3 linked regions of the Homo sapiens genome follow. The protein of the gene in region 1 purifies or fractionates together with the protein of each later gene. This does not show direct contact. Each region holds a gene or a part of one and is shown on either strand. Other genes may lie near its edges.

The links.
Region 2: the proteins of FAM219B (region 1) and KLHL13 purify together in Homo sapiens (affinity purification with mass spectrometry; one large-scale study listed by BioGRID and IntAct). This does not show direct contact.
Region 3: the proteins of FAM219B (region 1) and KLHL26 purify together in Homo sapiens (affinity purification with mass spectrometry; one large-scale study listed by BioGRID and IntAct). This does not show direct contact.

The regions. Positions count from the first base shown.
Region 1 is NC_000015.10:74,903,916-74,908,120, forward strand, and holds the start of FAM219B (protein FAM219B), read right to left. Parts: upstream 2,937-4,205; 5' UTR 2,886-2,936; coding exon 2,672-2,885; intron 2,451-2,671; coding exon 2,363-2,450; intron 1,317-2,362; coding exon 1,239-1,316; intron 1,145-1,238; exon of another isoform or gene 1,067-1,144; intron 798-1,066; coding exon 749-797; intron 1-748.
Region 2 is NC_000023.11:117,907,267-117,910,913, reverse strand, and holds part of KLHL13 (kelch-like protein 13), read left to right. Parts: intron 1-817; coding exon 818-1,613; intron 1,614-3,647. UniProt on the Homo sapiens protein: Substrate-specific adapter of a BCR (BTB-CUL3-RBX1) E3 ubiquitin-protein ligase complex required for mitotic progression and cytokinesis.
Region 3 is NC_000019.10:18,664,508-18,668,154, reverse strand, and holds part of KLHL26 (kelch-like protein 26), read right to left. Parts: intron 755-3,647; coding exon of another isoform or gene 712-754; exon of another isoform or gene 579-711; coding exon of another isoform or gene 492-578; coding exon 1-491. UniProt on the Homo sapiens protein: May play a role in endo(sarco)plasmic reticulum (ER/SR) mitochondrial signaling. May be part of the ubiquitin-proteasome system (UPS) and affect ubiquitination and degradation of target substrates in cardiomyocytes.

The sequences.
Region 1 (4,205 bases):
GGAGTGTTTTAGCCTGAGTTTTCATAGATGGAACAACTGAAGAAACAGAAGTTGTTTGGTCTGGAAGAAAGCAAGCTTGGTGAAAGATGGGCAGGGGAGAGACGGAAATGCTGATCTCAGAGAAACTAGAGTTGCTGTGTGACACTGGAAAGCAGGTCAAGGACCAATGGACCCATTCAGATTAATAAGGAAGATTTCTCTAACAGCTACTCAAAGAAAAAATTCTGTGTGTGTTGAGGGAAGGGTGGGTAGCAAGGCTCCTTGGAGGTGGTCAGTACCCAATTACAAAAAGCATTCAAGTAAGCACAGACTAGCAAACACTTAGCTGGGATCTATCAAAAGGGTTCCTTTTGTAAGCTGTGGCCTAGAAGACTTTTATTTTAGAGTCTTATTTTAGAGACAGGGTCTTGCTATATTGTCCAGGCTGGTCTTGGAACTCCTGGGCTCAAGCAATCCTCCTGCCTCAGCCTCCCTAGTAGCTGGGACTACAGGCATGTACCACCATGCCCAGCTTACATGACTTCTGAGATCATTTCTAGCCCTGAGTCTAAATGGTCTCCTCGATTCTCAACAGCCCTCCTTGGTCACCTATACCTCCACCGGGGGAAGAGGGCAGAGTGGAAGATCGTAGAACAGACCAGAAGTCTGGCACAGTGCTGTGCTCACAGCGGGCACCAAACAAGCATTTGGCAGTGGTGGTAATGCTGCCTGCAGCCTGGCCCTGCACAGAAAGGTGTTCTGGACTTGCCTCTGCAGATGAATACCCGGAGGAGTATCTGGATCCCAGCTCCCCATCACTAGGAGAAGAGGAAAACAGTCAGTTCCGGGAGGTACCTGTGGTGCACAGCTGTAAATCATCAGGCGGAGAGCATGCAAGGGCATCTGGAAGACTTTTGAAGCAAAGGCCACACACAACAGAACTCAAGTCCGAACAGGCCTTGAATAATACTGGTTCCCTCAATTGGTTCTGGCAGGGACAGGGTCACTCTCACTAACAATGCAAACATAACAGGGCAGGATGATCCCCCGGACATTGGTGCTCCGAATTCTAGAGCAGCACGATTACCTATGAGTCTTCTAACCAAGCCATCCTGGGAAGGGATATTGTTCAGAAGAGAACGGCCCTGGAATGTACATGAAGGGCCTTGGAGGAGACAGGGAACAAGCAAAGGCATCAGGCGATCTTCAGTCCCAGCCAAGTTGCTTCCCAAGGGGGTATTTCCAAGGGGAGCACTCACCTGTCAGAGTCGAGGGACACCAGGTTTTCATCTGGACTCTGGCTAAGAGCAGTATAGCCCTTGTTAAACTTCACTGACCTGAGGGGAGACGGGGGAGAAGAGACCAAACATAGATGAAAGCATAGGCATTTCACAGGGATAGGCAGAGTCCTCGCCCTGAAGGAGAAAGAATTGACTGCACTACTGACTTGCCTTCTCCCTGGTCACAGCCACCACTGCCTGCAGCTCCATGTACCTGGCTACAGTGCCTCAGAATGTGTATGTTCTCATTCTTTTTTTCTTTTTTTGGAGACAGAGTCTGGCCCTGTCACCCAGGCTGCAGTGCAGTGGCGCGATCTCGGCTCACTGCAATCTCCGCCTACCATGCTCAAGTGATTTTCCTGCCTCAGCCTCTTGAGTAGCTGGGACTACAGGCGTGCCCAGCTAATTTTGTATTTTTAATAGAGACGGGCTTTCACCATGTTGGCCAGGCTGGTCTCGAACTCCTGACTTCAAGTGATCCACCCGCCTCGGCTTCCCAAAGTGCTGGAATTACAGTCGTGAGCCACCACGCCCGGCCTGTATTCTACTCCTCCCATAGGTCTTGGAAAAAAGCACACCTCCCCTTGCCTGATCTAGGAAAAGCACCCTCTCCCCACTTATTTAATCAGAGGACACAAAAACTGCAAGTCTTTGGGTAAAAGGTTAGGGTTAACCTTCACTTCTCCGAGTTTCAACCCTCATCTGTAAAAGGAGGCACTGAATAAGGTTCTATGCAGCTCCGAGTTTACTATTCTGTTAAAAACAAACAAACAAAAACAGGTCTAGCCATTCCCACACTGCTCTTCGTCCTCATTGCTGGGGACTCCAGCCACCATTCTCCTCCCTAACAGAGGAGGAGAATGATAGTGAATGAGCCTGTGCACTCACAGAACTCCCTTATTCCGAAGCCCTTTATCTGATCCTATCACATCCTTAAAGGAAAAGAGAGATTGTTCCTCTTCCCATTTTAAAGATAGTGAACCTGACAGGTTGCATCAGGGGAATCGCTAGCTCGGCCTTAAACCAGAGCACCCTGCCTCCGTCCTGGGGATTAAAGCCTTCTCTAAAGCTGCTGGCACAGAGGAGGTGGCGCCTGCTGAGACCTTTTCCCTGAAGAGTCTGGGCGGTTCGGCGAGGCCCCCAGCATGCCTTTTCTCCGCAGAACGGCCTTGGCCAGGTCCCGGTGCTTCTCTGGAAGTTAAAGGACCCGGGTCAGCCGGGTCTTCCCCACTCCGCCGCGTCTCCCGAAGGCTGGGAGGCCGCTCTTTCCGAACGGATTTTGAGGGGCGAGAGCAGGCTGCAGCTAACCCCTTCCCTCCGGGGCCGAGGCCCAGCGGAGCTCCGGAACCCGCCCTGGGGACGCGGCCGCCCGCCCAGGGAGAAACCTCCCCCGACCATCGGGCCACACTCACGCAGCTTGGCTTGAATGGAGGGTGCGCGCGTCACCATGTATGGCCCCCGCTTTTCCACGGCCGCGGGGGTGCGCTCCCCCAGACGGAGGGCTCTATTACCGATCTGCCCGGAGGGTGGCCCCGCAGCTCCCGGCGCGCGGTCCCGAGCCCCGCTGGGCCGGGGTCCCGGGGTAGACAACCGCAACGCGCGCCCGCTGGGCTCCGCGGTCGCCATGGCCGGGCCCCGCCCTGCCGGATGGTGCAACCCCGCCCGTGGCGAAAGAGTGACCGGCCGAGGGAGAGGCGGGCTCTTTTAACAAGATGGCGGTGCGCAGGCGCAGGTAGTCCCCTTTCGGAGCTCTCCGGTTCGGTAGTCTGAGGACTTGGCCGAAATGTTCCGCCCTTCTTTTCGGGGGGACCGGGCAGTTCCGTTCTCGGTTTTGGGGTAGGCGGCTTGAGCCTGGTGATGGTTAGGCTTAGTTCTGTCTCTAGTGGAAATTAAATACTGATACTGTCGTGGGGCTGCGCGTGTGCGTCGGTCGGGTGCCCACGGTTTGAGTCCTGGCGCGCCGCACTCTGTGCTTCTCGCAGTGTCTCCTTGGGGGTCTCCCCACATGTGGGGCTGCCAGAGAGCAGACTTGGGTTGAAGAGTCATATGAGGACAAGCGTTATCAGCGACCTTTTCTAGCAAAAGAAACAGGCCCCAGAAGTTAAAGAACCTTGTGAAGGTGACACATCTAGAGGCAGTGCTTGCGCTGATCCATCTGACGCCAAACCCCACCTTCTTTCCAACACCAATTGGTGCCTGTGACATTGGACAGGACCTGACCCTCTCTAGGCCTCAGTTTCCACATTTAAAAATAGAGCCAATGTCACTACTCATTGTACAGTGAGGCAAATAGGCGTTGAAAAGGAGGGTGAAAGTGCACTCTGAGTCTGTGTGTGGTAGGCTATGTGTCAGGGCTCTTGACTTCTCTAGCCCCCAAGGGATGTGCTTGTGACTGGCTGGAAAGAAACTCCAGATCCTTGTAGAACTCCCAAATCTCATGAGGCTGTCCCTTGACTAACTTACTGGCTTCAATAGGGTAGGTCAACAGTGTGCAACCTCCGAGCTCCCAGGGCCACGCAGACCGTTGGGTGGCACTATGCCTTGGGCAAGAGAGGTGAAAAGGAAGAATTTAGGGCTGAAGTTTTCAAAAATCAAAAGCACAAAGGAATCCTTACCATTTTGGTAGATTCCCCCCACTCCCCATGATGTTAGACTGTTTTTGCCTCCAGAAACAGCAGGTTCATATAGCTCAACTTAGTATTTAATGGTTATAACCTCCCAATGAAGCCAATAGTTATTCTTGTTAAACAAATGAAGCTTAGACTTGGTCAAGTTTACCAGTTAAGTGATAAACCTGGAATTTGTACCCAGTTGCCTGTGGACTCCAAAGAAGTAGTTTTCTGGCCGGGCACAGTGGCTCACATCTGTAATCCCAGCACTTTGGGAGGCTGAGGCAGGCGGATCACCCGAGGTAGGGAGTTCAAGACCAGCTTGGCCAACATGGTG
Region 2 (3,647 bases), on another chromosome or scaffold:
TTTGCTCTATGGTGGGGAGATGGTTCTGGGCTCATGTTGACGCCAGAGAGAAACAGAATGTGCTGAAAGTAAGAGTGGCTAAGGAAAGCTGTGTTGCCCAGATGGAAGCAGTCATCACAGATACCAAAATCTCATTTACATGAGAGATTTGTTGTAGATATACCCCTCTGCCCTTAAGAAAGACATTTCCTTGCTTATATTTCCAGATAAATAATGTTGAAAATTAATTTGCCCTAGGGATAATTATCTTATTAAATTATTTTCATTATGAGTGATAACTTTGAAGGAACCAAAATGAATGATAGTAATGAGTGATGCCTATTTACGTGAAAGGGAAATCTAGGGTTTGGGTATTAGAGCTTTTCTGTTCATGGATCTGCTAGCTGTGTGGTATTTTTAAGAATAATGACTAAGAAGTGGATTGAGATGAATCATAATAGAACAACCTTCTATTTTCCCAAGTTTCCATCTGGCAGGAATTTTATCAGTATTTTGGGGGTGGGGGTGGGATACATTTTTGAGGAGAGAAGAGTAACTGGTTTGGCCATATTCCAGTTATAACATTGTTTCTTAGAGTAGCTTCTAACTTACTGACTTTGATCATTTTCTTTTAGTCAGCCTTCTAGTGGATTAAGTAAAGGTGGTTTGCAAATTATCTGTTTGTAGATCATTGATACATTTAGATAAGAATCCTATTTGTATCTATTTGAACATTAAAAGCATAATTTACTCTTATTCTAGAACAGGTATTTGTGCTATCAAGATGTGATTGCCATGAAAGTAGTCATGTTTTAATTTTTTTTAATTGGCTTAATAGGTCACTTTAGACAACTGTGTTGAAGTTGGACGGATTGCCAACACCTACAATCTAACCGAAGTGGATAAATACGTTAACAGTTTCGTCTTGAAGAATTTTCCTGCATTGCTGAGCACAGGGGAGTTCTTGAAACTCCCTTTTGAGCGTCTTGCCTTCGTGCTTTCCAGTAATAGCCTTAAGCACTGTACTGAACTTGAGCTCTTTAAGGCTACCTGTCGTTGGCTTCGCCTGGAAGAGCCTCGGATGGACTTTGCTGCAAAATTAATGAAGAACATACGATTTCCACTGATGACACCACAGGAGCTCATTAATTACGTGCAAACGGTGGATTTCATGAGAACTGACAATACTTGTGTGAATTTGCTTTTGGAAGCCAGCAATTACCAAATGATGCCATATATGCAGCCAGTTATGCAGTCAGACAGGACTGCCATTAGGTCTGACACCACTCACTTGGTTACACTAGGAGGAGTGCTGAGGCAGCAGCTGGTTGTCAGTAAGGAATTGCGCATGTATGATGAAAAGGCCCATGAGTGGAAATCGTTAGCCCCCATGGATGCCCCAAGGTACCAGCATGGCATCGCCGTCATTGGAAATTTTCTCTATGTGGTTGGCGGACAGAGTAATTATGATACAAAAGGAAAAACGGCAGTTGATACAGTCTTCAGATTTGATCCTCGATACAATAAATGGATGCAAGTTGCATCTTTAAATGAAAAGCGCACCTTCTTCCACCTAAGTGCCCTCAAAGGATATCTGTATGCAGTTGGTGGGCGAAATGCAGCAGGTGAACTGCGTAAGTGCATTTATATTAAGCATAGAGACAAATTTCTTCACTCAGAAATTCTTATCAAATCATAAAATAAGCAGTCCTGTAAAATCAGATAAAAATGTAGTTAGGGTTTTATTTTAAAACTATTTTTCTGAGAAAATATTGAAGACCATCTTTATGCCTTATCTGGGCATATATCGTTGGCAAGGGAACAAATTGTACGTTACAAATACATCAGTATATTGTAGCATATTTCACCTGTGCAGTATATATGGTCTTCATCTTGAAGGTTCATCTAAAGAGTATACTTAGCTCATTTAAATTATAATAAGGTCTTGGATAGAAGTTTGGCATGTTTTCTCATTTTCTGCTTTTAAAAGGCCATATGATATTTTACTGAACAGGTTACAATCCTTCATTACAGAAAACTTTCATTGTTTCTTCTTTTACAAAATATGTTACCTATTAGTGGCCACAAAGATAATTTTCTTTATAGATTAAATGTACAAAGTTCAACATTATCCAAAGTTTGTTCACTGTGAATATTATGATCTATGACTGTTTTAAAAATAATTCTGTTGACGTAATATCAGATAGTTTTCTTTTCCATAAGCCCATCTGGTAAGCTTTATTTGATGGTCACCTTTTTGTCTTCCCAGTATAAAATTGGTCATAAATGTACTTTGATGTAGAATACTTTGGCTATGTAAATTAACCCAAAAAGGTAAAATTTTATTATTTCAGATAAAATTGGGATAGTATAATTTTTCCAAAAATAAAGGCAGGAAGTCCACATTTTATGTTGTGACATATATTTGTCATTACCATTATTGTTTGGCCTTGTTTTCAATTATTTTATTCTCTATTATAAATAGAGTCTGTCACAGGGAGGGGAACATCACACACCAGGGCCTGTCTGGGGTTGGGGGGCTAGGGGAGGGATAGCATTAGGAGAAATACCTAATGTAGGTGACAGGTTGATGGGTGCAGCAAACCACCATGGCACGTGTATACTTATGTAACAAAACAGCACGTTCTGCACATGTACCCCAGAACTTAAAGTATAATAATATAAATAAATAAGTAAATAAATAAAAAATACAAAAAAGACAGAAAGACAGAAAGGAAGAAAGAAAGAAAGAAAGCCAGATGTGGCTCATGCCTGTAGTCCTAGCTGTTAGGGAGGCTGAAGCAGGATTGCTTGAACACAATAAATAAATAAATAAATAAATAAATAAATAAATAAATAAATAAATAATGTCCTTGTAGTTGACCAATTCCAGGCTCCATAGAGCTGGGAAAGTTCAAAATATTGGCATTGGCTCTGGATAAGTTCAGAGTAATTCTCAGAATCTTTATTTTTCAATATTCTAAGAAATAAAAGATAGTTTAATGTATTTGAGACTAAGCTATTTATCAGAGAATAGAATAACTGTTCTCAGCTTTTATACTTTCCTGTTTATAAAACCCTTTCTTGTTAGTGACATGGTCTTTTTCCTGATCTTTTCTACCCAAAGTTTTTTTTTCTTTGTTGTTACAATGATATTTTTTTCTAAGACCAGATTTTCTAGATTGTTGGACTATGTCGCATGATCATGAACTGCATAGGTTTTCCAATATATTTTAATAATTGGACTTTTAAAAGCAGTTAAGGCATAAGTGTCCTTAGTGTACAATTGTTCTTTAGGCCTCCTCAGTCAACCTACACACATTATTTTCATGTTATTATACTATTTTAAATTTGCGGTATCTGGAAATATCTAGAAGGTGCAAGTAGTGACTTGGTTGTTTCTTAGAAAATCCCTGTATAAGATAATGTTTTCTTAAATATTTTCTTCACAAATAACAGGTCATTAACTTGGTCAGTCTTCTTTTCTCAAAGGAAGTAGCTCCGTTTTTCAAAGTCAGTCCTTGCTTGTTGATATTATCACCCCTGTTAATATGCGGCTACTTAGCTTTCAATATATAGTTCCTAATACTAATTAAAAGCCATATTCTTCTGGGAGTTTTTAATCTTCAGGCCAAGGAGAGTCATTACATAAAACCAAGATGCTAGAG
Region 3 (3,647 bases), on another chromosome or scaffold:
AGCGAATGTGGCAGAGCACGTGGCTGGCGCGCGGCCGCCGGGCCGGGTCATGCTGCAGCCAGCGGACGGCCGCGCGGAACAGGTCGATCTCGGCACAGCTCTGCAGCCGGTTGCTCTGCAGGAAGAAGACCAGGCGCTCCAGTGGCAGGCGCAGGAAATCCTCCTCCTCGGCGATCTGCAGGAAGTGCCGGAAGGTGAAGGCATCCACCGACTCTCGCAGCGAGGCCAGGCTGAAGGTGGTGGCCATCTGGCCGATGTTGAGGCAGGTCTCCACGCTCATGGCCGCCTTCAGGAACTCCTCGCACAGCTCCACCACGGGCAGCATCTGCAAGAACACGGCCGCGCCCAGCACGTCCTGCACGCAGTCCAGGTCCAGTGTCACCTCGGCGCTGTAGGCGAAGTCGATGATGTGCCGCAGGCCACGGGCCGACACGCCCTTCAGCTCGATGACGTCCTGGCTTGCCTCCCGCATGCCGCCGGTGAACATGGCCCTGAAGGGCAGAAACACAACGTGTGGCTGGCAGTGGCTGAGGGGTGTTTTGGCCAGCCAGGAATGATCTGGCCTGGGGAACAGTAGCCTGGGGACACAGAACACAGGGCACAGCCAGCAAGAGGAAAGTAGGCGGAATGCTCATTAAAAACATGCAAAGGGGCCGGGCGCGGTGGCTCATGCCTGTAATCCCAGCACTTTGGGAAGCCCAGGCGGGTGGATCATGAGATCAGGAGATCGAGACCACTGGCACTGCACTCCAGCCTGGGTGACAGAGTGAGACTCAGTCACAAAAACAAACAAACAAACAAACAAACAAAAACATGCAAAGGCCAGGCACAGTGGCTCACGCCTGTAATCCTAGCACTTTGGGAGGCCGAGGTGGGTGGATCACCTGATGTCAGGAGTTCAAGACCAACCTGGAGGTTGCAGTGAGCCGAGATCATGCTGCACTGCAGCCTGGACAATAAGAGTGAGACTCTGTCTCAAACAAACAAAAAAAACATGCAAAAAAAAAAAAAGATTTTGAATCCACCCAAGCCATGCATCTTCCTATAAATAGCAACTCCCTGCTTGGCCCCTCTGCAGAGGACCCTGCCCCTGCCCCTTCATGACTAGATCGTGTTGGAGCTGCAGGAGCGGTGGCCCGGGTCAGCCTCACCCACAATGTGCCTGTCGGGGGTGCGGTTAGAGGGGCCAGGTATGGCAGTGCAGGATGAGAACACACCCTGTGGCTCTGGGGACAGATCTGCAGCCCCACTTGACACCTGAGCTCAGGAACTGCAAGGCCAGTGCTCTGGAGGTGCCATGCACCACAGTTCAACCCTCACCTTGTTCACTGACCTAAGCAGGCAGCTCTGATATGCCCAGCCTGAGTCTCAACAACCATCATGTGAAGAGGGGAAGGTAATGAGGGTCCCCAGGAATGGAGCCCCCACCAGGAGGCTGTGCTGGGGTGACTGCTGTCTCCAGAGACAGGCTCAGGTGGTCGGGGAAGCACCTCCCACCCAACAGCTACGTCCCCAGCCTCCATTGAGACCCCAGCTCCGCCCTTGTACTGCTGTGCTCTGCGAGGCAGAACATGAGAGTGGGAGGGGACACAGGCCCCCGTGAGGGAGGGCAGCGGGGAGGCACACGGTTCTAGGTCACAGTTCCCCTACAGCGTTTAGGGTGTTCCCCAGCAGAAGAGGGGAGAGCACCCCAGCTCCAGGGGAATGGGCGGTTCCTTCCAGGAGGCGCAATGGCATGGCATAGTAACTCTCACTCCTGCCAGTGCACCTCCCCTGATGGCCGTCCGAGGAGGAGGGAACATCCCTTGTGCATTTGACCCACAGAGGCCTGTCCCCTAGTCTTGCACCTCCTGTGAGCCAGGCTCAGGGCTACAGGGGCAAGGACAGCTGCCAGGGCACTATCTCGGGGCCGCCCACTGACATCTGCCCAACAAGCAGCTCTTCAGCATCTCTGAGCGGTCCAGGAGCAGTAAGTACGCTGCCAGCTCCCCAGACCCTGCCCCGCTTGTCCCCACGGGTCCACGCTGGCCCTCGGGCATGATGCGATGAAGGCAGAGGCGGTCGCAGGCGACAGGAGGGAGCTTTGCCTTTTAAGGTCTCGCTGGCTGCAGTGCCAGCACAGGGGAGCCTTTAAAGGGCATTGCTGGCTGGGCTGGCCCACCCGTCCCCAAATCCAGAATAAAAATAGAAGCGGCGCCCCAGTTGGCTCGGCTGCTGCGGCCCCCACAACAGCCTCATTGAGCCCATGGGGCAGGCGGCCCGGGCCTCGGGGAATGTGTGGCTGAGCGGCACACCTGGGCTGGGGCCTGGGAGCCTCCCCAGGGCGGCCCAGCTCTCTCTGGCGGGGTCACCACCTGGCAGGAAGGAGGCTCACCTGCTGGTCACCCAGGGAGGGAGACCACTCAGCCCTGCAACAGCCCCCAGCTGGCGAGGAGAAAGCACCCCCCACCCCACAGCCCTGCTCTGTGGTGCTCTCACTTCCGGCCCGGCCACGGCACAGGGACAGACAGACAGTGCCCGCCATGGCCTCTTCTGTCACGTTGGGGAAGTGCCCACAGCTCAGGGAGACAGGGAGGAGAACTCATCTGGGCCTCAGACAGAGCCCAGGACATGGTGTTGGCAGACACAGGGTCTCTGCGGCCCTCGATGCCCCTCCAGTCCCCCAGCTGTCCTGCTCCAGGTGTCCTGAGGGGATGCCCTGAGGGCAGGGGCTTGTGCCCATTTCACTGTCATCCCTGCTGCATCCCAAGGACTAGAATAGTGCCTGGCATACAGCAGGCGTCAAGTAAAGACAGATTGGGCTGGGCGCAGTGGCTCACGCCTGTAATCCCAGCACTTTGGGAGGCTGAGGCAGGTGGCTCATGAGGTCAGGAAATCAAGACCATCCTGGCTAACATGGTGAAACCCCGTCTCTACTAAAAATACAAAAAATTAGCCAGGTGTGGTGGCATGCGCCTGTAGTCCCAGCTACTCGGGAGGCTGAGGCAGGAGAATCGCTTGAACCCGGGAGGCGGAGGTTGCAATGAGCCAAGATTGTGCTACTGCACTCCAGCCTGGGCGACACAGCGAGACTTTGTCTCAAAAAAAAAAAAAACAAAACAGATCAAAAACCTGGCCAAGCCCTGCCACCCTGCATGCAGGGTAGAAGTGAGTGGGTGCCCACAGGCCATCTCTGTCCCTCCAGGCATGTTCTGCCCAAAGAGAGTAAGATGCAAACTCCGGGAAACCTGCAGGTTTACTGGACATTAAACCTCTCTCTAAAATCAGAAGGGGCCCGGAGCGGTGGCTCACGCCTATAATCTCAGCACTTTGGGAGGCCAAGGCAGGCAGATCACGAAGTCAGGAGTTCAATACCAGCCTGGCCAACATGGTGAAACCCCGTCTCTACTAAAAAATACAAAAAAAATTAGCTGGGCATGGTGGCGGGTGCCTGTACTCCCAGCTACTCGGGAGGCTGAGGCAGGAGAACTGCTTGAACCCAGGAGGCGGAGGTTGCAGTGAGCCGAGATTGTGCCACTGCACTCCAGCCTGGGCAACAGCGCGAGACTCCATCTCAAAAAAAAAAAAAGAGCAGCCGGTACCAGCCGTTCTCCCTCGAAGCTGTCCCTGGGTAGCGCTGAGACAGGCCCCCTTTAGAAAGTGGGTGC